Regions from separate parts of the Homo sapiens genome. Here regions 1, 2, 3, 4 and 6 are each linked to region 5. Evidence: fine-mapped expression QTL. A gene starts in region 5. Each other region holds a variant in brackets. All regions are shown on one strand. Distances are between the middles of the regions.

Region 1 (5,028 bases), 51 kb before region 5:
AGGTGCTTCTAATTTTTCATTTTTATTTAGTCAAAATTATTCTCCTGAGGATTGATTCCTTTCTATTTCAAATAGATTTGATTGAATGAACAGTTTCATCCATATCAAATTTTACTAAATGTAGCTTGTGGCACGGAGTTTTTCATTATTTCTATCAAAATTTTCCTGAATCAGTTTCTTAAAGATCTAAAAATTTGGTGAGGCGTGGTAACTCATGCCTGTAATCCTAGCACTTTGGGAGGCTGAGGCGGGCAGATCACCTGAGGTCAGGAGTTCAAGACCAGCTTGGCCAACATGGCGAAACCCCATCTCTAATAAAAATACAAAAATTAGCTGGGCCTGGTGGCAGGCACCTATAATCCCAGCTACTCAGGGGGCTGAGGCAGTAGAATCATTGGAACCTGGGAGGTGGAGGTTGCAGTGAGCCGAGATCGCACCACTGCATTCCAGCCTAGGCAACAAGAGCGAAACTCTGTCTCGGGAAAAGAAACAAACAAAAAAAAAGATCTAAAAATTTGTCAAACATAGGGGACATCATTTTTTCTCGGTCCCAAAGGTTACCATGTACAGTCTGAGCCATTATCAGTTTAATAGTGTTATTTCTCCCAACAATGTATATTACAAAGTAAACAAGAAATCTATGGTATGTATCTACCCTTAGAGAAATGAGAAAACCACGGGCAGTCTTAAGAGAGACAGCACCTGCAGCTGTACCATAGACAGACTACAGAGCCCTTTAATATGTCGGAGCAGCAAGAGAGCTTTGCAGGGTTAGAAATATCAAGGTCAAACGGTTTTGTTCCAGCCTGAGCTTAAAGGGGAACTTTTAAAAAATAAAAATGTAAAAGCTACTACTTGCTTCAAAATACAGCTAGGAGTAAGAAGGGAGAGCTGGGGGTGGGGGTAAAGATGAAACAGGATTGCCCCAAGGTTGGTAATAGAAGCTGGATGACAAACATCCAAGGTTCCATTACACTGTTGTCTATTTTGCATATATTTGAAAGTTTTGACCCCAGTTTCTGGCAAGACAATCCCTACTGCCAACAGTCATCCAGACTAACCAGGGGTGAGTCTGACTCAAGGGTTTCGGTTGGGGGCATCAGGGAAGGTTCATCAAGCACTGAGCCCACCTCTGCTTATCTTCAGTACTAGACACCAGCCTGCAGTTCACCTCTGGACACCGCATGTTCAGACACAGCACCCAGAGGGCTTCCCATTGCACTCAGGAAGCACCGGTTCCTCTGCCTTAAGCTGGCACTATTTGTCACCCTACAGAATCTCCCTAATTCATGTAAAAGCTGGCAGGAGGATGGTCTTGGGCCTTATGTTTTCACAGGGCACTACTTAGCCTGAGTCAGTGTGCCTCGGCTAGTTAGCCGACTGATGTCTATGACCTGTCCCCACACTTCCATCCTTTCACAATTACAAGCAGCTTACAGGGCCTGCCAGCTACACACAGCAGGCCTCCGGGAACGACGCATCCCAAATCAAATCCTTCCTGTTGCTGCAGCAACCCCATAGATGCCAGGCTCTTCCTGCCCACCCTAGCCAGAAGGGTGCGCCCACATTCCTCCTCATCCTCCTCCCGCTCTCACCTTCATGCTCTAGCAGTGTGCCACCGGCTAGAGAATCGACTGGCCAGGTGCAAGGCAGGGGCCTGAGCTGGGGGTAGACAGCAGTACCCAAAAGGAAAAAAACCCCACAACAGCACCCCAGGGTACCACCACCAAACCTAGACTCCTCACCCACAGAACCAAATAACAGGGTCTTTGCGCTCAGGGAGACGGAGACAATGTAGACCAATTGTTTTATTTTCTAGGAGAAAACTTCAGAGCCTAACAAATAAATTGGCCTGCTCAAAGCATCAAGCCTGGGTATTCTATCAGCCCCAATCCAAGCTGCCTTCCCTGCCAGCCAGCCACACAGCCATCCCCGACATCACACTCTCGCACTCTCTCTGTCCCCAAAACACACACGCAACATGCCCCACCTCTTAATTCTTCAAATGTGTGCAAACTCACAGAGCTCCTCCACTGCGGTGGGTTTCCCTGAGCTCAGCAGGGCTGTATCTTCCTCCCTGCACGTCCACTCACAATTCTCTTCCATCTCTGCCTTTGTCCCCCACCTACACTGTCATTCCCAGGACCCACAAAACACCAGCATCTCTTAAGACACACACACACCAATCAGGGAAGCTATTTCATCCTCCACTGGGATGCACGATGCAGACCCAGGCCACGAACCTGGTCATTGCCTGACATTGTGAGGGAGTGGAGAGCCCTGCTTTATGCCGCACGGTGGCAGAGAACTGGAATATTGCACGCCGGGAAAGTCCATGTGTTCTGTAATTATGCCTCATGACATTCCTTTGCAGTTAATGAGTAGCTGCCGGTTTCCAGTCACAAGGGTGGAGCATAGGAGTGGAGAGGTGGATGTATAAAGAACTGGGATGCCAGAAGAGGAAAGAGCATCTCCCTCCCCTAAGCTATAGCTATAGCTAATTTTTGTATTTTTAGTAGAAACAGGGTTTCACCATGTTGGCCAGGCTGGTCAAGAGTGAAACACGGTCCCCCAACAAGAACACATTTTGATGCCGTGCACAAAACTGGCATTGATTTGACCAGGACAATTGGACCAGTGACAACTGGGCCACTATGAGGCCATGGTCTGTGTCAAGAGAACCAGGAAGAGCAGAGTATATCCCTGGCACCAACAATAACCATT[A/G]TCTTGGGTCTACAACCTTGAACAAGGACCTGAAGGCATCAGATTCCCTTGGCAGAGCTCTGATCTCCCGACTCCTACCTCTCTCCTTCCTCTCCAGCAGAAGAACCAGGTGGCCAGTTGCTCCCTCCCCCAGTCCTGCCTCTCTACAGGTACACACTTCTCTGCCTGGGGGTTGCGAGCATAACACCCACTCCTCCAGTAACTGCTCCCCAAGTGCATGGTTCCACCTGCACCATGTGGACAAACAAGCCCCCTGTAGCTCTCCAATCTTAACACACCATAATGGCAACAAAAGAAACATTTTGGGCCAGGTGCAGTGGCTCACGCCTGTAATCCCAGCACCTTGGGAGGCTGAGGCAGGTGGATTACATGAGATCAGGAGGTCGAGATCAGCCTGGCCAACATGGTGAAACCCTTTTTCTACTAAAAATGCAAAAAATTAGCCGGGCGCGGTGGTGCATGCCTATAATCCCAGCTACTCAGGAGGCTGAGGCAGGAGAATTGCTTGAACCTGGGAGGCGGAGGTTGCAGTGATGAGCCGAGATTGCGCCACTGCACTCCAGCATGAGGTGACAAGAGCGAAACACGGTCCCCTCCCCCAAAAAAAGCACATTTTGATGCCTTGCACAAAACTGGCATTGATTTGACCAGGACAATTGAGCCACTATGAGGCCGTATTCTGTGTCAAGAGAACCAGGAAGAACAGAGTATATCCCTAGCACCAACAATAACCATTGTCTTGGGTCTACAACCTTGAACAAGTCACTAAACTTTTCAGATTGGAATGCCAAGGCCTCTGCTAACTCCAAGGAAGCCTCAGTTACAGTACTGAAAATACATAATTATACATAATTACAGCAGGGACCCATGAGGAAAGTTCTGTAATGCAGTATCTGGCTTAAACAACATACGCAAATTGTGAGCAGCAGACTAGTTAACCACAAGCTATGTTGCTTTTGCTATCTTATTTATTGCTGTGCAAGTTTGCAAATTTTCCATAATAAAAAAGTTTACAAAATTGCTTCTCAATACATTTCTTAATCAGCTGTTGCTTTGCTATTTACCTACCACACAGTTCTTTCTTTAAACTCGAAATTATGTCACTGGCTTAAGCAATAGCATAATTTGAGGGGAAAAGGGAGATCCATACTATTTATCAAGACAAAAAATAACCACGGTTTCTAGTCAAATGTTTTAAACCAATCACAATAAAACTTTTTTTAAACAGCTGGGGAAATTTGAAAAAGGCCTGGATACTAGATGATATTTAAAAACTAATTTTGTTAGGTGTAAAAATGTGACCTTTTAAAGGTTCTTACCTGTTAGAGATACATATCTAAATACTTAGGTGTGCAGTGATAAATCTATGAACAGCTTTAAAATAATCAAGGAAAAAGCTAGAGGGGGAGGGTGGACGAAACCTGATTGGCAAGAGGTTAACAATTGTTGACGCTGGTGATGGGCACATGTGGTCCACTGATTATTCTACTTTTGCAGAAATTCCATAATAAAAAGTTGTAAAGAAATATTTTTTGAAGGCGTTGGTTCATCAGTTATCACTTTTGTTCTTTACCTTCCACATAATCACAAAACTCAAGAAAACGCTTACTAAAAGAATAGGGAAAACCAAAAATATTTGTCAATGGTTGTCCTCATTAAAGGCAACATTTCAAATAAATGAGCAAACAAAAGTAAAACAAGACCAGGTGCGGTGGCTCACGCCTGTAATCTCAGCACTTTGGGAGGCCAAGGCGGGTGGATCACATGAGGCCAGAAGTTCAAGACCAGCCCGGCCAACATGGCAAAACCCCGTCTCTACTAAAAGTACAAAAATTAGCTGAGTGTGGTGGCAGGCGCCTGTAGTCCGAGCTACTCAGGTGACTGAGGCACGACAATCCTTGAACCCAGGAAAGGGAGGCTGCAGTAAGCCGAGATTGCACCACTGCACTCCAGCCTGAGCAACAGAGCGAGACCCTGTCTCAAAAAAAGGAAAAGAAATATCTAAGATTGCCAATGAGGGGAGGTAAACAGTCAAAATGTTACCCAAACAAGAGACAGGTTTACAAGGCTGAGCTGCTCATGGTCCCTTAAAGCCCATATTACCCACATGCAATCTTTTAAGATGTACGGGAAATGAAGGGGCCCAGCAATGGCCCCAATAGCCTGTTAGTGGCCACACCACTCCAGTTGTCCAAAAGTTCTCATCTCTAACTTCAGTCTCTTCTGCGATGATTTAAAGCTCTCAGCTCTTTCTCTGTCCCTAGCAGAGACAGAAAAACAACAAAACATGCCCACTTATAATTA
Region 2 (4,972 bases), 29 kb before region 5:
GTAAATTATAACAGGTCATATGGGGAGAAGCCCCACAGGGAAAAAGGAAAGCAAGGCATGGGGGCTGGGGCTGGCAGGGATGGTGGGCTGGGAGTTAACCATTTTAAATGTTAGCCTGAGAAGGCCTCATGGATAAAGGGATAGACATTTGAGCAGAAACCTGAAGATGAGGAAATCGGGCTATGAAAATACCAGGACATCGCCAAACAGAGGGACACCACCAAACAGAGGGAAAGGCAAGTCCAAAGACCTGAGGCAGGAGCACGTTTCACATCAGCACAGCCAAGGGAGTGACCTGAATCAGAGGACCAGCCTTGAGAAACCCCAACACAAAGCCCCCTAGAGCCATCTCTGCCCCCAAACCTGAGCTCAGGGACCAGACAAGGAAAACTTCAGGTAGAGAAGCCACTGCCGCGACTCCAGTGGGATGCTTCAACAGACCATCCTTCAATCACTCTGCAGCATGGGCACGTGGGCTGCTTTTAATAGATACGCGTGGGCTAAATGGCATCACAGAACCATAAATCCCAGTGTTAAAGACTTTCAGGAAAGGAGGTTTTCTGAATTCCTCGATATTTATCCAATGTTTAAATTAAATCCTCAGAAGCTTCTCCTCAAACCTAACCTGAACCCTCCATACTTCCGTTTCAGGTCAAGAATGATACAACCTTGGCCTACAGTGGGTAGGACACATCCTCAACTTGGGGGGCATCTCAAAGATTAATCCAACGTGGACACTTTGGAGGGGGAATGCCTCAGGGTGCTGGAATCTGTGGGAATTGGAAAGTGCTTTTTGGAGAAGGGTTTCTTCTCCCGGGAATTCTAGAGGCCTGGGCAGGGCCCAGCTGGAGATGGAAAAAGGGAGTGGCTGCTGCTCAGGGCTTGTGCAGACCAACGAGCAATCAGAACTTTGAAGTATACAGCCCAATGCACCAGGCCAGGGAAGAAAGAAGGGTTTCAGGCAGCCACTCTGTCTAGGAATAAAGGCAACATATCTGGCAAGGTCCAACCAGGAACTTCAGCTCAGGGTTCAGAGCATAAAACCCAAACACACAGGTACGATCTTGGTAGAACTCCCAAAGCAGCAAGGGGCTCCCTTGAAGAGAAATGAGAGGTGCATGGAAATAGGAAAAAGAAGAGGAATGGTTAAGTCCTGGCCCTCATTCTCTATGGGTCTATCTTAATATATTCCTAGATTTCTGGGACTTAATTTCCAAAGGGTCCATCCTACTGATATCTCCCCCACAGTGCACAACACACTGTGCACATACACAGTAGGTGCTCAGAAACTTTGCATTGTTGTTGCTCTCTCATTTTTTCTTTCTTTTTTTTTTTTCTGAGACACATTTGTGCTCTGTCGCCCAGGCTGGAGTGCAGTGGCACGATCTCGGCTCACTGCAACCTCCACCTCCCAGGTTCAAGCGATTCTCATGCCTCTGCCTCCCTAGTGACTGGGATTACAGGCGCCCACCACCATACCCGGCTAATTTTTGTATGTTTAGAAGAGAGGGGTTTCAACATGTTGGCCAGGCTGGTCTCGAACTCCTGACCTCAAGTGATCTGCCCACCAAGTGATCGGCCTCCCAGAGTGCTGGGATTACAGGTGTGAGCCACCATGCCCAGCCTCACTAAACATCTTCTTACAAGTGGACACTTTTGAAGGCAGCATCTTCCATCATGTCATAAACACACCACAGGGACAGCACTGGGTCATTTGCTAGTGAACTACAATTTGGACCAACTGCTTAGATCTTCTTGGGAAATCTGAACTCTCATCTCAAGAGGCATCACAGGGTTGGTGATTCACATTAGCTCTCTAATCGGGAAGCCGAAGCAGGCTGAGGAAGGTGAATAAAGCCCCCAGCCCAGAGCCTGCCACACAGCAGGTACTAGTAACTGTTGAGGGCTCTTTACCTTCCCCATTCACAGGGCCTGGCTATCAGAGGCTGCAGGTGACACAAGTGGCACATCGCGTCACACAGCAGCCAAAGGAAGACCAACTCCTAAACCAGAACCCATTTCCACGCAGCCCCCAGCAATCGCCTGATCACAGTCCCCTCC[G/A]CCACTCCCCTTCTGGTCTCCGTTTCACTGCTTCTTATTTGGGCTCTCAGGACAAAGAACCAAAGTTTCAGCAGGACGATGGCCACGGAAGTCAGAATCCGCTAAGGAGTGTATAACAACTCACCTGCCAAATCTTAAAAAGGAAAAAAAAAAAAAGAAAAAGAAGAAGAACCGATGTTTCAAGAGAAGCAGAAGGCTAAACACTCCCAAGAGTGAGGCGAACGCGAGGCAGTAAGCGAATCTTCCTACTGCTGTCTGACAGGTTGTCATTAGGAGCGGAGGAGGAACACCCTCTGGACACGTCCCCTTAAGTGCACTCAGCACCAACTCAGGGAGAGCACCCACTTGCAGGGTCATCCAAATGCCAGCACTCACACCCTATTAATAGTGTCGAGCACTGGAATGAAGCAGATTGCGGGGCGGTGGGTCACTGCATTTAAGACATATTGGACTCGAGCTTCTAACCTTCAGCAGGTGATACAGTCAAAGGCACCCTTAAAACTGAGGGGTAGTGAGGCTCGAGGTAGGGGAGACATCTATGGGGCTATCTTACCTGCCTCGCCACCCTCCGTGCCTCCCAGTAGGGCTTGGAGTCTTCCACAGCTTTGCCAATTTTCTTCACCAGTTCATCCAGTTTCACCGTTGCTTCAACCAGAACAGAGCGGAACTTCTGACGAGCATCCTGCAGCCAGGGGAAACCGAGGAAACACAGTTGAGGCTTAAGAAGGGATCTGCAAACACCTACTGGACCTAGACAGAAACATCAACAAAGGACTTTACCCAACGTACAGACCCCTAAAGTAGCACCTTTACAAGACAGTGTCTAGAGCAGCACCGCCCAAAACAGCTTCCTGCCACGGCGGAAACGTCCTGTGCTCTGCACAGTGCAGTGTGGCGGCCACCAGCCACGTGTGGCTACTGAGCACTTAAAACTGGCCGGTGTGACTGAGGAAAGGAGTTTTTAGTTTATTTAATTTTAATCATCTCGGGTGTGGTAGCTCACGCCTGTAATCCCAGCACTTTGGGAGGCCGAGGCAGGCCCATCACTTGAGGTCAGGAGTTGGAGACCAGCCTGGCCAACATGGCAAAACCCCATCTCTACTAAAAATACAAAAATTAGCCAGGCGTGGTAGCAGGTACCTGCTGTCCCAGCCACTCAGGAGGCTGGGGCACAAGAATCTCTTGAACCCAGGAGACAGAGCTTGTGGTGAGCCAAGATCATGCCACTGCACTCCAGCCTGGGTGACAGAGCACGACTCTGTCTCAAAAAAAAAAAAAAAAAAAGCTTAGTAAGCAACAACAACGCAAAGTTTCTGAGCACCTACTGTGTATGTGCACAACATGCTGTGCACTGTGGGGGAGATATCGGTAGGATGGACCCTTTGGAAATTAAGCCCGTCTCTACTAAAAATACAAAAATTAGCCGGGCATAGTGGGGGACACCTGTAATCCCAGCTACTCAGGAGGCTGAGGCAGGACAATCATTTGAATCAGGAGGCAGAGGTTGCAGTGAGCCGAGATCGTGCCACTGCACTGCAGCCTGGGTGACAGAGTGAGACACTGTCTCAAAAAAAAAAAAAATTAATTCATTATATTTAAAATTTTTTAATTAACATGGCTAGCAACTACTATATTGCATAGCACGGTATAGATTAAAAAGCTTTGTCCAGGACCTCTGGACAGCATGTTGTCAAAGCTCAGGACTTTAATCAGAGACATAGATTCAACACTGACCAAACCTCTATCTGGGGAAGAATGTCCAGCCATCTCTGACAGCTTCAGTCCAAATGATGCTGTCAATGTTAAACACTGAGTGCAAATTTATTTATTTATTTACCACATGCCAGACCTGGTGCTGGGCCTTGGGCGTGGCCCTGTCTCCAGGGCACTTACAGCCTGGTGGGTGAGGTAGGTATTACAGCCCGTTCCAGAAAAGTCAGTGCCAGGGTGGGAATGGTCCAGTCGCCATGGAACTCAGCAGGGAAGAATGGCGCCAGACCATGTATTAGAGGGAGAGTCACAGGAAACTTCCAGAGGAGTACTATCTAAACAGAAGTCCAAAGCATGAATAGGAAATTGGGGGAGGGGAGGAAAATACTGAGTCCCAAGCAGGCAGCAGAGCCTGTGTCCAGATAAGAGGGGAATGGGAACAGCATGGTGTCTGCAAGAAACTGAAGGAGGCCGGAGGTCTGGAATGTGGAGAATGGCAAGAGATAAGGGTGGCCATCCATCCTGGCGACAGCAACTAGCAACTTGGACCTTGATAGGAGTTAGGAAGGCAAAGAAGGACTGTGCAAGGCTTAATCATGTTGTAAAAGTCAAGAAACCAGATCCAAGAGGTATAAGGAGAGAAAAAAAAAATTAAATAAGTTAGTCCCAGGTCTAGGAGGACCTATTGGAAGGGATCAGGTCAGTGATTCAAACCCCACATCCCCTCTACCTCTCCCTCAGGCATCTGCCTGACAAAGCCACACCTAGGGGAAGGAAGGACACATGCATGAGTTTAAAAAAAAAAGAGAAATGGCAGCCGGGCACCATGGCTCATGCCTGTAATCCCAGCACTTTGGGAGGCCGAGACGGGTGGATCATGAGGTCAGGAGATCGAGACCATCCTGGCTAACAAGGTGAAACCCCATCTCTACTAAAAATACAAAAAAAAATTAGCCAGGTATGGTGGTGGGCACCTGTAGTCCCAGCTACTTGGGAGGCTGAGGCAGGAGAATGGCGTGAACCCGGGAGGCGGAGCTTGCAGTGAGCTAAGATCGCGCCACTGCACTCCAGCCTGGGAGACAGAGCGAGACTCCGTCTCAAACAAACAAACAAAAAACTAGCTGGGCATGGTGCCGTGTGCCTATGGCCAGGGCGGAAAGATCGCTTAAGCCCAGAAGGTTGAGGCCGCAGTGAGCCAAGA
Region 3 (5,028 bases), 46 kb before region 5:
CACACCCATTTTGCCAAGCCCTCTCTCTACAGGGCATCCAAAGGCCTCACAATCCCTGTTCAACCCCTCCTTACTGCCTAGTTCTGGAAGCCTCTGCACATGTATCCAGCATGGGTTCTTTCCTGGATTATTTGTAAAGCTTTCTCACCACCTGCCCACTTGGCTGGAAGCGCCAATGTCAAACTTTCATAAGCTAATCCTGGGTGCTACTAGTCTCTATTTGGCGACTGCTTTCCAACACACTTGAAATAAATGGGTTCAAAGTCGTTAACATTCCTCGTGCCTCAGATGAAAATACTCAAAATAAATGATGGAGGGGAGTTATCTGTCAATGGCCCCTTCCCTGCCAGCTGGGATCAACAAAAGGAGCCTCTCAATTGGAGAGCTTCTCCATATTGGCCAGGATTGGTCTTTTGCCAGCCAGTACCTCACACAACAGCTTGGCCTCAGTCCCAGGGGATGCCATTTAACAGAGGCAGAGGACACACCCACTCTAGACAAAGTGACTTCAGTTAACACCAACTCACTCTGCAACTCAGAAGCCCAGAGCTTTCTACTCTTGGCCTATGAGCCTGGGAGAGACCCATAAAAGGTATGTGAAGGGAGAGGAGAGAAGGACAACTCAAACCCAGGGACACCAGCACACACTGGACGACCGAATGCCTGGTGAGTGCCCCAGACCCAGGACCTTTGGAGTTAAGATGCTACAGCAAAAAAGTCTGGCAACCCACAGCCCTCTCCTTTATGCATAGTACATAGGATTTCTAGGATCTCGTCACAGCAGTATTGCCCCTTGTGTCCTGGAAAGTCTTATGAGAGCCAAAACTGTGTTACTGAATTTAATTCCCATATTCTAGCACAGTGGCTGGTACACTGCAAATGTTTAAGAAATATTTGTATAATTAAGGTACCTAGCTATGGTAGAAATGATAATCCACAAACAACTCCCTTATGATCAATCGTTATTCATGCATTTGCGATTTTTTTCTCCTGTGACTCCTGCAATTAGATAAATGTCTATCTGGACAGGTTTATCCTTGAAAATGGCCACTTAGGGTGATGTAAAAGCTCACCTGAATAATCAAACTGTATACAGAAAGTCATGTCATATGAACGCCATTCTCTCAAGATCTAACTCATTCCCCGCTCCGCTCAACCTCACCCCTTCCAAGCTGGGCGATACATAACCCAGATCCCAATGGGGCTTCAGGAAATTAAGCCTGGGAAAAGAATTTACCCTCTCTGACTTCATAGGACCAAGTTTCTGTACTTCTTTTGTCAGTTTGCCACGTTATAAAATAGTATATGTGAAAAAATACTTTGAAAACTGCCCAACGCCATGAACATATCAGGAATACATCTCACGAATTATTTCACCATTCACTTGGTCTTCTCAACAAGACTGCAAACTCTTTGAAGGCACCGTGAGTCCTCACCACTAACATGGTAGAGAAGCTGCACTTAGAAACAGGTGCTCCGCCAAGCCCTCCAGTAGCCAGGAACATTGGCTCTTCTCTTCCCACCTCCTCCACGTTTCAGACTTCCCTGGGTCACTCAGCACTGTTTGTTGCCTGGTACACTTAAACACAGCCAAAGGAGCAACTGGTTCACTGAAACGTCAAACCCCTACCTCCAATCTAACTTTGCTTCTGGATCAGCATAACTTGGCTTAATTTTAACTATCACCTGCAAGAAGATCTGCAAAGGAATTCAAGGTCAGAGGGACACAGATGAAAATGAGGGCCTAATATAAACATGAATTAGCAAAACATACCTTTCTGGTAAGCACAGCATATGAAAAATCTGAGGGATCTATTATCATGTAAGTGGGAAGACGCTCGGCATGGCTGCAGCCGGCGGGCCCTGGCCAGAGCAGGCTATCAGAAACAGCATCAGAGCACAAGGGCATACACAGCTAGTGGCCCCTCTGGCTGCCGGAGGCCATACCACTTCAGGCCACCTGTGGGCCTGTGGAAGGATGGGAATGGCCTAGTGACAGGGCCAGGGTAGCAGCTCCGCCCCTGCCTGGGGAGGCAGAATCGGCACAAACTGGTGTGGCAGGGGCTCTCCATGTGAGCCCGGGTTCCTGGCAGATCTCATTTCCACCTGGTATTGCCAAGCAAAGCAGGTCTGAGGAACTCAGGGGCCTTCTCCCAGCTCTAAATGGCTGGGAACAAACTTCAGCCAATGGAACTGAGAATGAAAAAGGATAAGATATCCACACAGAGAAATCCAAATGTCTCAGGGTTGAAATGACTACACCTTAAGCCTTTGTAATTCTGTCAATTCCAAACACTCCTTTTTTATTTCTTTTGTTTTTGAGACAAGGTCTCACTCTGTCGCCCAGGCTACAGTGCAGTGGCAGTGGCACAATCACGGCTCAGTGCAGCCTCAACCTCCTGGGCTCCAGAGATCCCACCACCTTAGCCTCCTAGGTAGCTGGGACTACAGGAGCACACCAACATGCCCAGTTAATTTTTTGTATAGATGGGGTTTTGCCACGTTGCCCAGGCTGGTCTTGAACTCCTAGGCTCAAGCGATCCACCCGCCTCAGCTTCCCAAAGTGCTGAGATCACAGGCATGAGCCACCATGCCGGGCTGCAAGCATTCCTCTTTAAAGCAAGTACTCATTTTTCATCTTTACTTTGCACCACGCAACATGAAGATGCGGAAAGGATAAGATGCAATTTCTGCTCTCAAGGAGCTCACGGTTCCAGGGCAGGCTTCTTGACCCATGGTTTAGAGGTTGGGAACACAGATCAAGACTCAGGCTTCTAGACTCATTAGCTGTGTGACCCTGAGTACTTTCTTACTTCTCTGTGCCTCAGTTACCTCACCTGCAAAACACAGATAATAACAGAACGTAGCTCATAGAGTTGCTGCAAGGAATAAGTGAGTTAATACATATAAAGTGCAGAGAAAAGGCACGCAGTAAGCAGTACAGAGTGTCAGCTGTCATATAAGCAAGCATTATGTAGCATTAG[C/T]TTGTGGGTATTAACCCACATGACATGCATGATATTTAAAGGGACGCAACATATACCATGAAGTTATAATTTATGCACCCATGCACATGTCTGTTTTCAGAGGATGACAACCATAACGCTCAAGTTCTCAAAGAAGCAGAGCTGACAAAAAGCCGAGGGAGCGGGGCTAAAGGAAGGGTTCATGAAAGTTACATTGACTTGTGCCTTCATTTTAATCCAGCAAAGGGTAAAAGCTAAGCAGTGCTGTCCAACAGAACTTTCTGCAATAATGGAAATGTTCTCTATCTGCACCGTCCCAAAATAGTAGCCAGCCTCCACGTGTGGCTACTGAGCACTTGAAATATGGCCAGCCAGGGTGAATCAATGAATTTTTGGTTTAATTTTAATTAATTTACATTTAAGCAGCTATGTGTGGCTAATGGCTACTATTTTGAACATCACAGAGCTAGTCAGTCTGGGAAGAAAGAAGTCACAGGCAAAGACTGGATTACGCAATGATGCAAAACATTCCCTGATGTAATCAGAAATCATGAGTAGAACACCACGACGTACCCTGCAATTGTGAGTAGTGACGTGCGTGTACACTGAACCACAGCACAGAGAAGTCCAGATGCCGAAAGACAAGAGGGGCCAGGCCAGGCCGTGAAAAGCTTTGTGCGCTGTGGTCAGATTTGGGCTTGACACTGGAGACAGAAGAAATGTTCTGTACTAGCCAGGGTTCTCCAAAGAAACAGAACTGATAGGATGTTTATATAAGCATTTATTATAAGGAACTGGCTCGTGCAATTATGGAGGCTGGCAAGTTCAAAATCTGCAGAGCTCAAAATCTCCAAGTAGGCTGGAGACCCAGGAAAGAACTTACATTGCAGTTCAAGACCAAAGGCCGTCTGCTGCAGAATTCCCTCTTGCTCATGGGAGGTCCCTCTTTTGCTCTATTCAGACCTTTAACTGATTGGATGAGGACCACCCACACTGGGGAGGGCAATCGGCTTTACTCTAAGTCCACTGATTTAAACGTTAATGTCATCCAAAAACACCCTCGCAGTAACAACCAGAATTATATTTGACCACATATCTGGACACTGCAGCCCAGTCAAGCTGACACATAAAATTAACCATCACATGTACTAAAGTTTTTGAGCAAGACTATCAGTAGAACTCACTTTGGTAAGATAATTCAGCCGGGAGGCAGTAGGGAGGGATGGAGGTTTCAGGAGGCAGGAAGACCGGTTGAAAGGCTATTTCAGGCCGGGGGCGGTGGCTAACGCCTGTAATCCCAACACTTTGGGAGGCTGAAGTGAGTGGATCGCTTCAGCTCCGGAGTTCAAGACCAGCCTGTGGAACATGGTGAAAACCCGTCTCTACTAAAAATACAAAATTAGCCAGACATGGTGGTATGCACCTGTAAGGTGAGGTGGGAGGACTGTTTGAGTCTGGGAGGCAGAGGTTGCAGTGAGCCGGGATTGCACCACTGCACTCCAGCCTGGGTGACAGAATGAGAGACCCTGTCTCAAAAACAAAACAAACAAACAAAAAAAGGCTATTTCAATGCTCTGGGTAAGACATGAGGGATTGCACCAAAAAAGTGACAATGAGAAATGACTCATTTAGTATTTGTTAAAGTATGAATGAATGGATTCTGTGACTTTACAAAACACTCACTTTATGAGAAGCTAGCATTTCCTCACAAATCTCCAACACAATGTAGAATGGGAAAGGAGGTTTTCCATACAACATAAAGGGAGGGAAGTGATGTAGCAGAGAGATACAGGTAGTTACCATAGATACGGAGATACAGGTAGATACAGAGATACAGGCAGTTACTATATTTCCATGCTCAAAAGAGTCTTATGCCTGCTCTGTGGGTAACTTAAGCCCACCTTTAACTCCTTCTAACTCACAGCCTTTCTAGAAGATAAACTATAGTACCAACGTGGCAGTCTGTTAGCTGCTCCCAATATCCATTCCCCGCTTCATCCTTAAAACAACCTTGCCTGGCTAGCTAAAAGACTCCAAGTCAAGCCTCCCTTGCAGCTACCTGTGA
Region 4 (5,028 bases), 29 kb after region 5:
CTCAGCTCACTGCAACCTCCAAGTTCAAGTGATTCTCCTGCCTCAGCCTCTCGAGCAGCTGGGACTACAGGCGCATGCCACCACGCTCAGCTAATTTTTGTATTTTTTGGTAGAGACAGGGTTTCACCACATTGGCCAGGTGGGTCTCAGAATTCCTGGCCTCAAGTGATCCTCAAGCCTCAGCCTCCCAAAGTGCTGGGATTACAGGCGCATGCCACCACACCTGCCTAATATCTGTATTTTTAGTAGAGATGGGGTTTCACCACAATGGCCAGGCTGGTCTCAAACTCCTGACCTCAAGTGATCCACCTGCCTCAGCCTCCCAAAGTGCTGAGATTACAGGCGTGAGCCACACACCTGGTCTACAATTTTTTTAATTAAAAAAAATTTGTTTTGGCTGGGCACAGTGGCCACCTGTAATATGAGCACTTCGGGAGGCTGAGCCAGAAGGATCACTTGATCCTGGGAGGTCAACACTGCAATGAGCCATGATGGTGCAAGCTGCACTTCAGCCTGGGCAACACAGCAAGACCCTGTCTCTACAAAATAAAAATAAATAAAAAATTTAGGGGCATGATGGCATGCACCTGAGTCCCAGTTACTTAGGAGGCTAAAGTGGGAAGACCCCTTAAGCCCAGGAGTTTGAGGTTATGGTAAGCTATGATCACACCACTGCACTCCAGCCTGGGCAATAGAGCAAGACCTCATCTCTGGAAAGAAAAAAGTGTATCTGTGGCTCCCATTGTATTTCTGTTGGACAGTGCTGCTGCTATTTGTCTATATAGTAAGTACTCAGGAAGACAATTTGTTGGAAGAAACATCAGGAGGCCATTTTTTTTTTTGTAATCCCAAAGTGCTGGGATTACAGGCATGAGTCACCGTGCTCGGCCCTTTTTTTTTTTTTTTTTTAGATGGAGTCTCACTCTGTCACCAGGCTGGAGTGCAATGGTGTGATCTCAGCTCACTGCAACCTCCGCCTCCTTGGTTCAAGCAATTCTCGTGCCTCAGCCTCCTGAGTAGCTGGGGTTACAGGTACACAACACCATGCCCAGCTAATTTTTGTATTTTAGTAGAGATAGGGTTTCACCATGTTGGCCAGGCTGGTCTCAAACTCCTAATCTCAAGTGATCCGCCTGCCTCAGCCTCCCAAAGTGCTGGGATTACAGGTGTCAGCCACCACACGCAGCCTCAGTCTCTCTTTTAAACAGATTTATTGTATAATGTATATATCATAAAATCCAGTTTGGTGAGTTTTACTAAATTTATTGTCATGCAACCATCACCACATTTCTGTTTAAGACAATTTCATTGCCCTAAAAACTTTCCTTGTGCCATTTGTATTCTATCCCTGCTCTCAGCCACCACTAGGTAACTCCTGATCTGCTTTCTATATCTATAGTTTTGTCTTTTCTAGAAATTTCATATAAATTAGATCATACAATATGTGGTCTTTTGTGGCTTCTTTCACTTTAGCATATTGTTTTTGAGGTTCATTCTTATGCACTGTGCTTTTCTTGGCAGTCTCAATTTTTCAGCCTACTTTTAGAGAAAACAAAAATGAGTGGTAGAAAATCTGGGGAAATTCCTCAGTAACTTGATCTGAGCCTAGAAAAGTTGCCAAGGTTAATAAAAAACACCCTGAAAGTTCCATGTCACACTGGGATTGATTTTAAGGATACTGCTCATCTCTCTTTCCTCCTTGTTTTTAAAAGAAAATTGACTGTGTTGGCAAAAGTACTCATTTCCTCATTTTACCTTCCTGTTCTTGTCTATAAACTTACATAATTTATACATTATGTACTCATAGTGTAGATACAAATGTGGCATTCTGTATTTCATTTTCTTTACCATAAAATGTTTTTAAAAGTAATGATCATAAACTTGCTGACCAGCATGCACACTCTCACCTGGAAAACTGAACAGAGGTAACTGCTTTTTATGGAATTTAACAAGACAGTCATTCATTTATTTAACAAAATGCAAGCTCTTACAGCTCTACTTTATACTGAACTCTAACCAGATGAATCTAACATCCCACGGTCCTAAGATTTTGCATTACAAGTCATGCTATTTGTTTAAATAACAGGAAAAAAAAAAAGACAGAAACACTTTAGGAAGCCAATTTTCCTTGCTAATGAGCAGATACTAAAATAATGAGTATCTTCTGACTACCTTCCTCAAACCACTGAAAAGTTTACCCATTAATCATATGTGAACTTTGAAGCGTGGGTGGCTGGAGCTTCTCATAAGCACATCCTTAAAGATGAAACCACATATAAATTGCTAAAGGAATCACCCGGTGAAAGTCAGACTGTGATTAGTAGGTATGGGGAGGAAGGAGAAGTTGAAAGACCCAGGCTGGGGTCAAACCTCTTTCAGTTACGTTTTTAATCAAATTAAGTCAAAACTAACGTTTCATGTCTCTTTTGCTTATTATTGACAGCCGTGTTTAGCTCAGCCATCCCCCACTGAAGCGAACTGTGTCAGTGCACT[G/A]TCAGATGCAGCTTTGGAAGACAATTGCTGTCCCTGCTGGCTTCTTCCCTCACGTGCCTGTGTTTCAATGCCTGAGGGCTCCTCTGAGCCCACACACAGGACTGGCCAGAATTGCTGGGAGGTAACACCCCAGGACAGCCTCAACAGATGAGGGCTAGGAGCTGGTGAGTCCACCCGCCAGCCTCCTCACCGCTGCACAGTCTCTCAGAGGGGCCTTCACAGGACTGCGGCCCAGTTGTCCTCTGAGGTATCCTGCTCGGCAATGTGCCCTATGTGGCTTTTCTCTCTTCCCTGTCTCACTTCCTTACTCTGCCTCCTAGAATCATTTCTTAAATAGATGATTTGCCCAAAATCCTTTGCCTCAGGGTCCACTTTTGGGCTAACCGAACTAAGACATCTACAAAATTTTAGATAGGAATAGACTTTAAAGGGATCCTTTGACTTTTTTTTTTTGAAACAGCATCTCACTCTGTCACCTAGGCTGGAATGCGGTGGCGTGATCTTAGCTCACTGTAACCTCCGCCTCCCAGGTTCAAGCAATTCTCCTGCCTCAGCCTCCCGAGTAGCTGAGATTCCACACGCCTGACATCACACCTGACTAATTTTTGTATTTTTAGTAGAGACAGGGTTTCTCCATGTTGGCCAGGTTGGTCTTGAACTCCTGACCTCAGGTGATCCGCCCGCCTTGGCCTCCCAAAGTGCTGGGATTACAGGTGTGAGCCGCTGTGCCCAGCCTCCTATTGCTACTTTTTAACAGAAATCTCTGTGTCTGACTCAGACCCAGAGAAAAGAAACCACAGTGATCAGAGTCATACACAAGGGGGTGCCCTCTAGCAGGTTCGCCTGAGGTTGTCCGCCTCCCGCCTCATGCTATTAACATTCCATAAACACGCCATGGCAGAGAGCAGGGCACTGCTGAAGGTTTACATGCGGTAACTGATTTCATTCTCACAACAACCACGTGAGATGAGTGCTGTTACTGTCCTCATTTTACAGAGGAGAAACCGAGCATTTAAACTAATTTGACCAAGGGCATAGGGCTAGAAAGGTGGTGTTTAAGAACATCCCAGTGCTTTCTAGCCCTTTCTAATCCAAGGGCTAGAATGCTGGAATTGGGATTCCAGCCCAGGCAGCCTGGTTCCAGATTCAAGGACACAGCCCTGAGCATGTGAGGGTATCTGAGAGCTGCCTGCTTGATTTGGGGGTTACCATGTGTAGAGAAAGGAAAGAAGATGGTCTATGTAACATCTTCAAATGCTTGAAGGCTTTGAGCAATGAACCTCCTTGGTGGTTGGGTGAAGAATTCTATAATGAGTGGATTCTTTCCCAGAATAGTACTTTTTTTTTTTTTTTTTTGAGACAACTTCTTGGCTCTGTCACCCAGGCTGGAGTGCAGTGGTACAAACACAGCTCAGTGCAGCCTCGACCTCCCGAGCTCAAACAGTCCTCCCACCGCAGACTCCTGAGTAGCTGGGATCACAGGCACGCACCACCACAACCAGCTAATTTTTTCATTATTATTATTTTTAGTAGAGACAAGGTCTTACTGTGTTGCCCAGGCTAGTCTCAAACTCCCGGACTCAGGCAGTCCTCCTGCTTTGGCCCCTTAAAGTGTTGGGATTACAGGCATGAACCACCATGCCCAGCCAGAATAGTATTTTTAAGTGCATAAAAGAAAACACATAGGATTACAAAGGAAACCAATTATACTGAAATGCACTTATCAAAATGTTCCCCCAAACTGTGACACAGCAATACAGTGCTCCTTTGGTATACACAGGGAACTGGTTCCAGGACCCCTGAGTACACCAAAATACCTAAATCTGGGCATACTCAAGCTCTGCAGTCAGATCTGCAGAACCTGCGTATACAAACAGGCCTCCATTTACAGGGGTTTGCATCTCATGAACGCTGTATTTTCCATCCACAATGGGTGGTAAAAACTCCACGGTTAAGTAGATCTGTGCAATTCAGAGCTGTTATCCAAATATCCAACTGTATATGCATCCATTCTATGGGAGTGATTACACGTGAGAATGGGCTCCATAAAAGTGTCAATTCTCTGTCATTAGACACTGACAGGAATAGGCTGAGTTGACCAAATGGCTGGATGCTTTCAAGATAGACATCAGAGGCAACCTCCACCTTCATTAACTTTCTGTTTCTTTTTTTTTCTTTTGAGATGGAGTCTTGCTGTTGGGAAAAGCTGAGTGTTGGGAGAAGCTGAGGCAGGGCTTGCACGTCTGACATAATGTAAAAGAGTCTTGGAACGTGTCCAGGGTCCATGGTCTAAAACTCCTTGTGGCCTTTGGAACACCAAGCTCTGTGCTAAAGGGTGGAAGGCTGCCCTGGCACAACATAATCTAAGCCCAGGGCATAAAATCCCTCATGGCTTGGATAGACTCCAGGGCTCGTGGCTCTGGAATGTGTCTAGACTTGCTGGCTCCTTGCTCGTTGCTCTCCCAGGATCGATTGTATCTTGAGTTAAAAGAACCTGCTCTCCATTATCTCAAGTAGCAGAGCAAATGCTAAACC
Region 5 (5,028 bases):
ACACAACACTCTCCAGGACAAATGGCAGGAACTGCCCTGAATATGTAAGAGATTTTGTGAGCTCATTCATTATTCTCCATTAAAGAGTTCGGCTAATTTTCCCCTGTCCTTTCAGTCACATTAAAACTTGGGGCTTAAGCGTTGTGTAACGCTCTGCACAGACTTGGTTTAGGCCCCATGGAGCTTCCATAATGAAAAACAACATGTGCAATTGGATCCACATGCGTTCCGCCCACAGGTTGAGCTCAGTGGTGTATTTTATTCTGTCAGGGAGCTGTTGCTCAACTCCCAAGGAGGGGGGTCCAGCAATAACACTCCAGCTATGAAGACAAAATTAACCAGCCTTGTGCCGGTGTGAGTGACATCACTTCACCAAGAACAGGAACTCAGCTCTCTGTACCTCAAGTTCAGTCTCCCGTCTGTTGATATCATCCGTGGACTGATTTAACTTCTCCAGTTCTCCCTGGTGAAGAAAAGAGGGAGAAAAAAAGACTTAAGGGATCCGTCTTTTGTTTCCAATATAACTCAGTCCATAACCTGAAAAATTACCCCAGCCCAATTTGCAGGAAAAGGGAAGAATCAGAATTAATTCTTACGGCAAACAGTTGAGGCTTGACTAGAAAAGCAAATGAATGTCGGCATTTCTGAAACCATTTTCTTGAGGGTGTCCCTTTTGACAATGTCTTCAGAGACATTTGGAATTTGTCAGAGGTCAACTATTCCAGGTACATGCCTTCAGGTAAACCCCACCTGTTACAAATGGTTTAATGGCCTAATCAAAACAGTACCATCTGCCTTGAGCAAGAACTTTGCTTAGAAAACAATAAAAGACAATAAGCAAGGCCAAGCCAAAAATATAAACCCAGTGAAATCATCAAGGGCAGAATTCTGGTATTAACTCACCAGAATTATTTTTCTGTAAAGGGTGAAAATCTTTTCACACTGCCAATTATTCAACCTACTTAGCTGGACGTTTTAAACTAGCTTTAATCCCATTCCTTTCAATAAACATTTACAAACTGACATTTTGTAAAAAAAGTATCCAACATGAACTTAACTCATCATTACTATGCAAACAAAGGATCTTGCTAACATAATCCCATACCAGTAACACACGATTTATTCCAAACCAATTACTTTAATTAATAGCATTCCTAATGCAAGGATTTTTTTTCCACCTGATCTTTATCTTGCTAAGCTGACAAAACAATTCATTTAAACCCCAACCACTGAGTTAAGTGAGCTTTTAAATTGATCTGTGCACTAAAAAACCAATTAGGTATCCAGAAATTACAGAGCATGCTTAAAAGCAATTTTTTTAAAAAAATGATTTATTGAAAAGGTAGAAAAAAAACGGGCCTTAGAAAGGGATTTGCTCTGCTTTTTGCTTAGGGGTGAAGAGGTGAAACTGTCACTCCTAGATCTCGGCTTGGAAATTGTTTTTTAATCATCTCTCTTGGAAATGGAGGCACAGCCAGCCAGCCCAATCCCCTCGCCGCCTCCACGCGTCAGCTTTGCGCATCAGTTGTCCCCGATTTCTTTTCATGCCCAACCTCACAACAAGGAAAAGCAGGGTTTTAAGCAATTTCAAGCCAGGCAGAACGTTGAGCCAGTGATGACAATAAGCCGCTCAGTTCGCTAACAATCAATCAGAGAAGGAAAACGGCTCAGGCCGGGCACCTTGGCAAGTGAGGACTCTGCACCCGGGGCACCGGTGCCAGCCCGCGCTGCAGGGCAACGCCCACCCGCCCACGGTGCCCGGCGCCCACGCGGGCGACACCTCCTCGCAGAGCCTGGACGCCGTGCCATGCCCGCGGTGCCGCGGCCGGGCAGGGGTACCCCCGAGGATACCATGGCGCCCCCGCCCCCTTTTTCCCTTTGTTGCACATCCACCCGAACCACCAGGCACGCTGCACCGACCCCGATCCTGCTACGGGTCGGCGGGGGACTCCCCGCAATAGAGTCAGGCCGCATCCACGCGGGCACTGTAGCCTCCTCATTGTGGAGACGATGAAACGGAGCATACAGACCGTCTCCTGCCACCCTATGTGGCCGCCAGTCCCCGGACCACAGTTACTGGGGGCTGCGAAGTGGCTGTACGCGTAGACACCGACCTCCGTAGCAGCCCTCGCGAAGCCCGGATGCGGGGCGACCCCGCGCGCCCTACCTGGATCCGGGGATCCACCTCTTCTTCCTCCTCCAGCCCCTGCTCCATCCCCTCTTCCTCCTCCTCCTCCTCGTCCCGGGCAGGCGGCAGGATTTCGGCTGGCTCCTCCGAGCGGCTCCGCTTCAGTGCCGCGTCCATGCAGGCAGCCGGCACGCGCGCCGCGCAGTGGGCTCCGGAGCGCCCCGGGGGTCGCGGCTGCCACAGGCTGGGCTGGAGCCGCCTCGCCACAGCCGGGCACGGTCGGGGAGCCGCCGGGGCCGACACCCGGGAGACGCAGCTCGCCGATGCGGATACCTCCGGCCGCGGCGGAGCAGAGGAAATGGGCGCGGCCGCCCCCTTTCTGCCGCGGCAGTCAGCGCAGCGCCCGCTCCGCCCCCGTCCCGCCCCGGCCTCGCGTTCCGCCGCCAGTCCCAGCTATCCAGGTCTCCGTCGCAAAACCCCAGCTCCCTCCACATCTCCAAGGTGGCAAAATAGGACAGCCCCCACCCCCTTGTAACTTAGCAGCTCGGATATATCTCAACTACGTAACGCAAGCCTCCCGCTTTCGGGAGTCCCCTCCTCCAGCCCTCCTCCGAGGCTCGTTGTTTGTGTGGTAGGGAGGCGTGGGTGTTTTCACACTGAAGTCGCCTTCTGAAGCCTACGCTCAGTGACCCTGGCCCTCAGGACCAAGACTTGCCGAAACCCTATACCCAAAGCACACTCATCCTCTTGAGCGAACCTTGGGAATGGCGGAGGTTCCGTGCACTGATGCATTGCCGAAGGCTGCGGCCTCTCTGGGCGAGCCCCATACCGAAACACAGAGGTGCGGCGGTCCTACCTGAATAGCCAGGAGCATGGAGAATGCATTGAGCTGGGATTTAAGGAGGTGGCAAGTGTAACCCCTGTTGATGGGCACACTCTGGCCAAGAATTTATGAATTAGTGAGACTTTCTGCCCACCATCAACAAGTAGGGAGACAGAGTTGGCCTGGCAGACACAGCATCCGAAAAGGCCAAACTGAAGAGGCACGTGTGTGTGCTTTTATGAAATGTCAGGGCCACTGTGATGTCAGGGGAACGCAAAGGATGACCTTGGCAAAGCAGATGAGCACATGGCTGCTCACGTCTCCTTGCCTTGAGAAATGCAGAACGTGCACATGTCCTACACGGAGGCCTGTAGCCCATCGGCTCTGAGTTTGGAGGACAAATTTGCTTGAGAAAGGAGCTTCTTTCTGAGAACCTATCATCAAAGCCACCTTACAAAACCTGGGTCTGGCACAACGTGGTGGCTCGTATCTGTAATCCCAGCTCTTTGAGATGCCAGGACACAAGGATCACTTGAGGCCAGGAGTTCAACACCAGCCTGGACAATACAGCCAGACCCCTTCTCAAATGAATAAATAGTCCTGCTCCTGGTGGTTTTATCAGAAACTAGGCTAGAGGGTTACTCCTTGGGCAAGGCACCACCCCATACACGCTGGCACTGTAGTCCACTGTCAAAGGAAATTTGTCCTGTCTCCTGGAGGTAGTGCCATGGTTTGTTTCTAAAAAGGTCAGACCTGTTCATTGCTCTTTAAATCAAGGATGAGTCAGCAATTCTGTGAGAGGTGCTTCAAAGCTCCTTGCTAAAGACATAGTTGCTTTTGGTTTTCCAATGATAGATGAAGCCAGGAACAAGATAGCCATAGGGGTCACTTTGGAACACAGGAGCCACCAACCTTCTCTGGTGGCTTGGAATTGAGCCTCCAACTTTGCAGGTACATCCTAGCTCTGAATGAACTGAGAGACAGAGTTTGAAATAAACAGAACTCTGGGGTCAGCCCTGACTATGATAAATGCTTCTCAGCTAGCAGAACCCTATCCTCTCCATTCTAAATGGCAAACTCCAAACTACATTCCTGCTTAAGCTTAGGTCAAGAGCAAAATACATCTATGAGACATAGGCCAACTGCTCAAGAACATCAGTTCAGACTTTTGTTGTCTTATTTTTTGGAGATCTGGGCCAGCTATAGTGTTAATCCTAATAGTCTTTCTAAAGATAAAATGAGAAAAATAAATAAACCACAGGCAGTACTATATACAGTCAACCCTCCATAGCCTCTCAGGTTCCACATGTGTAAATTCAACTAACCACAGATAGAAAATATTTGGGGGAAAAAAACACAACAATTAAAAAAATGCATATTTAAAAATACATGGCCAGGAGTGGTGGCTAACACCTGTAATCCTAGCATTTTGGGAGGCTGAGGCAAGGAGGATCACTGGAGGCCGGGAGTTCCAGACCAGCCTGGGCAACAAAGCGAGACTGCCTTGCTCTCTAGAAAAAAAAAAAATACAGTATATGACAACTATGTACATATTTGCATTGTATTAGGTATTGCAGGTAAGAAATCTAGAGCTGACTTAAAGTATACAGGAGGGGCTGCTCATGGTGGTTCATGCCTGTAATCTCAATACTTTGGAAAGCCAAGGTGGGTGGGTTGCTTGAGCTCAGGAGTTCAAGACCAGCCTGGACAACATGGTGAAACACCATCTCTACAAAAAATACAAAAAATTCGCCAAGTGTGGTGGCTCATGCCTGTAGTCACAGCTATTTGGGAGGCTGAGATGGGAAGATTGCTTAAGCCCAGGAGGTAGAGGTTGCAGTGAGCTGAGATTGCACCACTGCCCCCCAGCTTAGGTGACAGCAAGACCCTGTCTCAAAATAAATATATATATATAAATAATAAAGTATACAGGAGGGGCCAGATGTGGTGGCTCATGCCTGTAATCTCAGTCCTTTGGGAGGCCGAGGCAGGAGAGACGATCGCTTGAGGCCAGGCGTTTGAGACCAGCCTGGACAACAAAGCAAGACCTGGTCTCTAGGCCAGGCATGGTGGCTCA
Region 6 (5,028 bases), 40 kb before region 5:
CAAACAATGTAGATTTCAAAATTTCAGGCCACATACCTTCACCCATATATTTTCCTATGGCCTTGGGTGTTGATATGGGGCTAGGCAGAAGAGGAGCCTACATAAACTAATACGGCATCTTACACCTCATGATTTCCTTCCAACAGCTGCTCTCAATAAAGGGCCCACTGTAGATACCTTCTACCACCTTGGATGAGTGCCCAGGTCAGTGTGAAAACAGACACCCCCCCTTCTCTACATAAGGAGAACCTTCACTAAGCTGGCCTTACCCTGAGATCAAGAGACTTAAAGAATGCAAAAACCTCAGAAGATTTTGATATGCCACTGCTTTTAGAAATAACACCAAGCACTTTCTCTGGGGTGTGGTGCTTTGACAAAGGGCTGGGGCATACACTTGGGGCTGACAGTGAATTGATGAGCACAGGGCATCTTTTTTTACTTCCATTTAAACCACTTCCTCAGGCCGGGCACGGTGGCTCACACCTGTAATCCCAGCACTTTGGGAGGTCAAGGCAGTTGAGGTCAGGAGTTTGAGACCAGCCTGGCCAACATGACAAAACCCCGTCTCTTCTAAAAATACAAAAATTAGGCTGGGCGCGGTGGCTCACGTCTGTAATCCCAGCACTTTGAGAGGCCAAGGCGGGCAGATCACGAGGTCAGGAGATGGAGACCACCCTGGCTAACAGTGAAATCCCATCTCTACTAAAAATACAAAAAATTAGCTGGGCATGGTGGCTCACGTCTGTAATCCCAGCTACTTGGGAGGCTGAGGCAGGAGAATTGCTTAAACCTGGGAGATGGAGGTTGCAGTGAGCCGAGATTGCGCCACTGCACTACAGCCTGGGCAACAGAGTGAGACTCTGTCCCAAAAAAAAAAAAAAAAAAAAAAAATTAGCCGGGTATGGTGGCACACACTCATAATCCCAGCTACTTGGGAGGCTGAGGCAGGAGAATCACTTGAACCTAGGAGGTGGAGCTTGCAGTGAACTGAGATCGTGCCACTGCGCTCCAGCCTGGGTGACAGAGCAAGACTCCGTCTCAAAAATAAAAATAAACCACTTACCCAAAATGAAACCTACAAAGTGAGGCTTCCTAACCAGAGCCCATCATTGCCTTAACTGAAGCAAACAGGTGCTCCATCCTCCATGAGAAGGTAAACTCCCCCCATGCCCATGAAAGTTTTAAATGGAAGAAACTAATAAATATCAAACTAATAAAGGCCATCGAGAATGGAGAAGGGGAAAGAACTGGTGGGAGGCAGAAACAGGAAGTGGCTGGAGAAGACAGGGGAAGACACAGCTGAGGAACCCACATTCCAGAAGATTCTTCAGAAGAGACCCAGTTGATGTGGCCTCCCATGAAGCCCTTCGGAATTCTACCGGGAGCTGACCAGCTCTCAGCAAAACCAAGCTAGTGAGGGTTGGGGTGGACAGAAAAAAATACTAGACCCAGCTCCTTATCTTAGAAACTCAATTTCGTCCCAGAAACACCAGGCTTGGGAGTAGCTAGAACAGCAGCATGAGCATTCGCATGCTTTTTAGTATCACTCAACTCTCCTGTCTGTGTTCACTTGTGCCCACTCAAGGCTACAGGCTAAGGAATGACAAAGTGGGAGCCAGGGTTCCTCCACAGCTCCACATGCTGTGGATTCAGGAACCCCAAGACAGGGCAGCTGACCCCAAAACTACTTTCTCTCTCTGGCTGATCAACACTACAAATTCCCTTTTGGTAGGGCTGCCAGATTTAGCAAATAAAAATATAGGCCTTCCAGTTAAATCTGAATTTCAGGTAAACAATTTTTTTAGCTTATGTACCAAATATGGCATAGAACAAATTTATACCTAAAAAAAAAAATCTGAAATTTAACTGGGTGTTCTGTATTCCCATGTTCTATCCGCCAATCTTACTTCTGGCTTAAACTCCACAAGGACATCCCACTGGGTAGAAATGAAAAGTCTACCTACAGCCTGCACTTCTAAGCATTTCCCACTTAGTGTAAAGGGTGTAGTTCTGTCTCTCACATGTGCAGAGGTTCCCACAGCATGATGAACCCTGAGTTGGGAATATGCAGTCCCACCAGGTTGGAAGCAGGGTATTCCAAGCTATGGGAATGTTTGTAAGTCAGAACCACTTGAAGCCCCAGAGACCATAAATCTCTAAGTCTTATCAGTCATTTACTTCTCAGCATGAATAATTTCATCAGATTCTTCAGGGTAGATTTTCATAGAAGTCACAACTGGAAGGGCTGGGGAAGAAGTAGAAAAGAAAGGAAGGAAAGCAGGGGCATCCTCTGAGTCAGGAAAGGAACAGAAGGTGCACCAAGAGTGCACAGCCGGGGCCCAAACCTCGTCACCAGGCAACATAAAAAGGCCAGCCTGTGTCGAC[A/G]AAACTCGTAGCAGAAACACAACCTATGCTCTGATTTCCTTTCACTGAAAAATTAATCACTCTGCCACTCTTGCCAGGGAATGCCTGTGGTTTACAGAGGGGAAGGGGCTATCCATGTCCATGCAATCACTTTACTGAAAGCAGAGTACAGTTGAGAAGAAGGAAGGAAACATCTGAAGAGCATCATGGTTTCAGGGAACCAAACTCCACACCCTGTTTCCCCTCTAACCACTATGCTGTGGTGACAAACCACACCTGTTAGCTTCACAGAGAACACTGCCTGCCCAGCAGCACCAAGGGGGGCTCAGCCATGCCTCTGTGAATAGCAAAGGAGATAAGAAAAAGGGAGTTGCCCATGACAAACCTCCCAACTAACAAGGTGATGGAGGGCAGCTCCTCCAGCCCAGTGCTTCCTGGCTAAGACCTGCCTGCAACCAGTCCCCCACGCGGACTTCCTGCCACCTGCCAGACAGAATGGGGTTGAATGCAAATGGTTCATGGCATCACCAGAAAAGAAAACCTAAGCCAGGCGCGGTGGCTCATGCCTGTAATCCCAGCACTTTGGGAGGCCAAGGTGGGTGGATCACCTGAGGTCAAGAGTTTGAGACCAGCCTGACCAACATGGAGAAACCCCATCTCTACTAAAAATACAAAATTAGCTGGGCGTGGTGGCGCATGCCTGTAATCGCAGCTACTCGGGAGGCTGAAGCAGGAGAATTGCTTGAATCCGGGAGGCGGAGGTTGTGGTGAGCCGAGATCACACCATTGCACCCCAGCCTGGGCAACAAAAGCGAAATTCCATCTAAAAAGAAAAAAGAAAAGAAAACCTCAAGATCAGCAACACTCTCCCTGCTCCAGCCCCAGACGCCCGAGGCAGAGCCAGCCAAGCAGGAGGTGCAACCCTTCTGGCAGAAGCCCAAAAATCTACTTGTGTGTGTCAGGAGCCTTTGACCTGGGTCAAAAGCTGCAACACATCTCCTTCCTGACCCCATCCTAATTCAAGATTCCAAGTTTCCAAAGTGCAGCTGCTTCTTTCCCAGAATCTTCAGCCAAGACTGTCAGGCAGGATGTGATCTTTCAGGCGAAGGAGAGTTAAGAGTCCATGCTCAGTTCTTGCCATAAATCTCCAGGAACTCTGCTTTGAGACAGATGCCCTGTCATTCCACTACGTGCCCTTACTTTGGGCAGCAGGAATGACGCAGTTCCCAGGAACTGGCCTGTGGCCACCCAGGGGGAATGTGACCAGGGCCACAGGGAAGAACGTCACTGAGCCAGACCTCCTCACCCAAAGTCCCGTGGCAAGAACTGCCCCCAGGCAGGCAAGTGGCTCTGCAGAGATAAAGTGACGGGGAAGAAGGAAGGCATGACAAAGCCACACTGAAGTCCTAGCAGGAACAGGGCACCATGAGGGGAAAGTTCCCAAGGACTCCAGATTCTTGGAACAAGAGCTTCTCGGAACAAGAGCTTCTCAGTTACCCTAGCCAAGAAGAGGCAGGGGTGTGCAGGGAAATAACTGCACCAATGAGCTCAAAAACTGCCTTTAGTCCTAAAAGCCCATTCTCCTCAGATGTGCCAGAGTGTCTTTCAGATTTGCAAATAGTCATAAATGCCTCCTATGTGCCAGGCACCAGCCAGAACCAGGTAGACTTGGTTTAAACCTTCACTCCTGTCCTCGCAAGGTCTGTGATGTTAAAGTCCCCAAGCCTCAGTGATTATTCCCCCTCAGTATGATGAAAATAATATCGTCTTGCAGGCCGGACGCAGTGGCTCACACCTGTAATCCCAGCACTTTGGGAGGCCGAGGCAGGCGGATCATCTGAGGTCAGGAGTTAGAGACCAGCCTGGCCAACATGACGAAATCCTGTCTCTACTAAAAATACAAAAATTAGCCTGGTGTGGTGGTGTGCACCTGTAGTCTCAGCTACTCGGGAGGCTGAGACAGAAGAATCGCTTCAACCTGGGAGGCAGAGGTTGCAGTGAGCCGAGATTACGCCACTGCACTCCAGCCTGGGCGATAGAGCAAGTCTCCATCTCAAAAAAAAAAAAAAAAAAGAAAAGAAACAAGAAAAAGAAAAGAGTACCACTTTGCAAAAAGTACTCGCTGTAAGGATTAAATGAGATAATGTACATAAAAGACCTATGACCACAAACCCAGGCCCCTAGCACAGCCTCAACAAATCAGGGCTGCAGATAGCCCCTTAAGAGAACACAGACTCTAAGCCCCAGTTTCTTCTTCTGCAAAAGTAAGTGTGTGTGTGTGTGTGTGTGTGTGTGTGTGTGTGTGTGTGCGCGCGCATGTTTACGTAACTCCCCCTCATGCATGTAAAACACTTAGAAAGTGCCTGGTATACAAAGAGTGTTGAAATTACTCTTCTTCCTCCTCCCTTCCATCCTCCTTTCTTCCTCCCTTCCATCCAGTAAACTGTCACCGCCATACCACTGACTCCCATTTTCCCTGCATTCTGGATAGATAATTAACCAAGTCTGTTACAGTCTCCCTTCACATTCTCTTAGATTAGGCCACAACACCGGAAAGGTTTATGTAAAGGCCCAGTCTTTGGGCTCCAAGACTAGTTTCCTCATTCGTACTATAAGGCCAAAAGGGAAACAATGACAGCCCCCGCACAGAGCAGTGTGTGTGGC

The links. PIP is the estimated chance that this variant, and not a neighbour inherited with it, causes the effect.
Region 1: its variant is the best candidate, but not a certain one, in a credible set for the expression of SH3BP5 in spinal cord (GTEx, PIP 0.56).
Region 2: its variant is the best candidate, but not a certain one, in a credible set for the expression of SH3BP5 in whole blood (INTERVAL, PIP 0.56).
Region 3: its variant is the best candidate, but not a certain one, in a credible set for the expression of SH3BP5 in whole blood (INTERVAL, PIP 0.74).
Region 4: its variant is the best candidate, but not a certain one, in a credible set for the expression of SH3BP5 in B cells (Schmiedel 2018, PIP 0.65).
Region 6: its variant is the best candidate, but not a certain one, in a credible set for the expression of SH3BP5 in tibial artery (GTEx, PIP 0.52).

Annotation. Positions count from the first base shown.
Region 1 is chr3:15,278,692-15,283,719 of GRCh38, forward strand. All of the region lies in intron 3 of SH3BP5 (SH3 domain binding protein 5), which reads right to left. Among named protein-coding and RNA genes, the nearest start is that of SH3BP5-AS1, 27 kb to the left of the region's middle. The variant A/G (reference allele first, on the strand shown) is at 2,725.
Region 2 is chr3:15,301,489-15,306,460 of GRCh38, forward strand. It overlaps SH3BP5 (SH3 domain binding protein 5), which reads right to left. Exons shown (of 9, transcript NM_004844.5): 3 at 2,615-2,743. Among named protein-coding and RNA genes, the nearest start is that of SH3BP5, 29 kb to the right of the region's middle. The variant G/A (reference allele first, on the strand shown) is at 2,062.
Region 3 is chr3:15,284,246-15,289,273 of GRCh38, forward strand. All of the region lies in intron 3 of SH3BP5 (SH3 domain binding protein 5), which reads right to left. Among named protein-coding and RNA genes, the nearest start is that of SH3BP5-AS1, 33 kb to the left of the region's middle. RefSeq lists a silencer at 4,092-4,267. The variant C/T (reference allele first, on the strand shown) is at 2,985.
Region 4 is chr3:15,359,362-15,364,389 of GRCh38, forward strand. No RefSeq gene overlaps it. Among named protein-coding and RNA genes, the nearest start is that of SH3BP5, 29 kb to the left of the region's middle. RefSeq lists a silencer at 3,159-3,218. The variant G/A (reference allele first, on the strand shown) is at 2,494.
Region 5 is chr3:15,330,104-15,335,131 of GRCh38, forward strand. It overlaps SH3BP5 (SH3 domain binding protein 5), which reads right to left and starts at 2,483. Exons shown (of 9, transcript NM_004844.5): 1 at 2,168-2,483; 2 at 401-463. The coding sequence starts at 2,305. RefSeq lists silencers at 2,052-2,111, 2,192-2,591.
Region 6 is chr3:15,289,659-15,294,686 of GRCh38, forward strand. All of the region lies in intron 3 of SH3BP5 (SH3 domain binding protein 5), which reads right to left. Among named protein-coding and RNA genes, the nearest start is that of SH3BP5-AS1, 38 kb to the left of the region's middle. The variant A/G (reference allele first, on the strand shown) is at 2,386.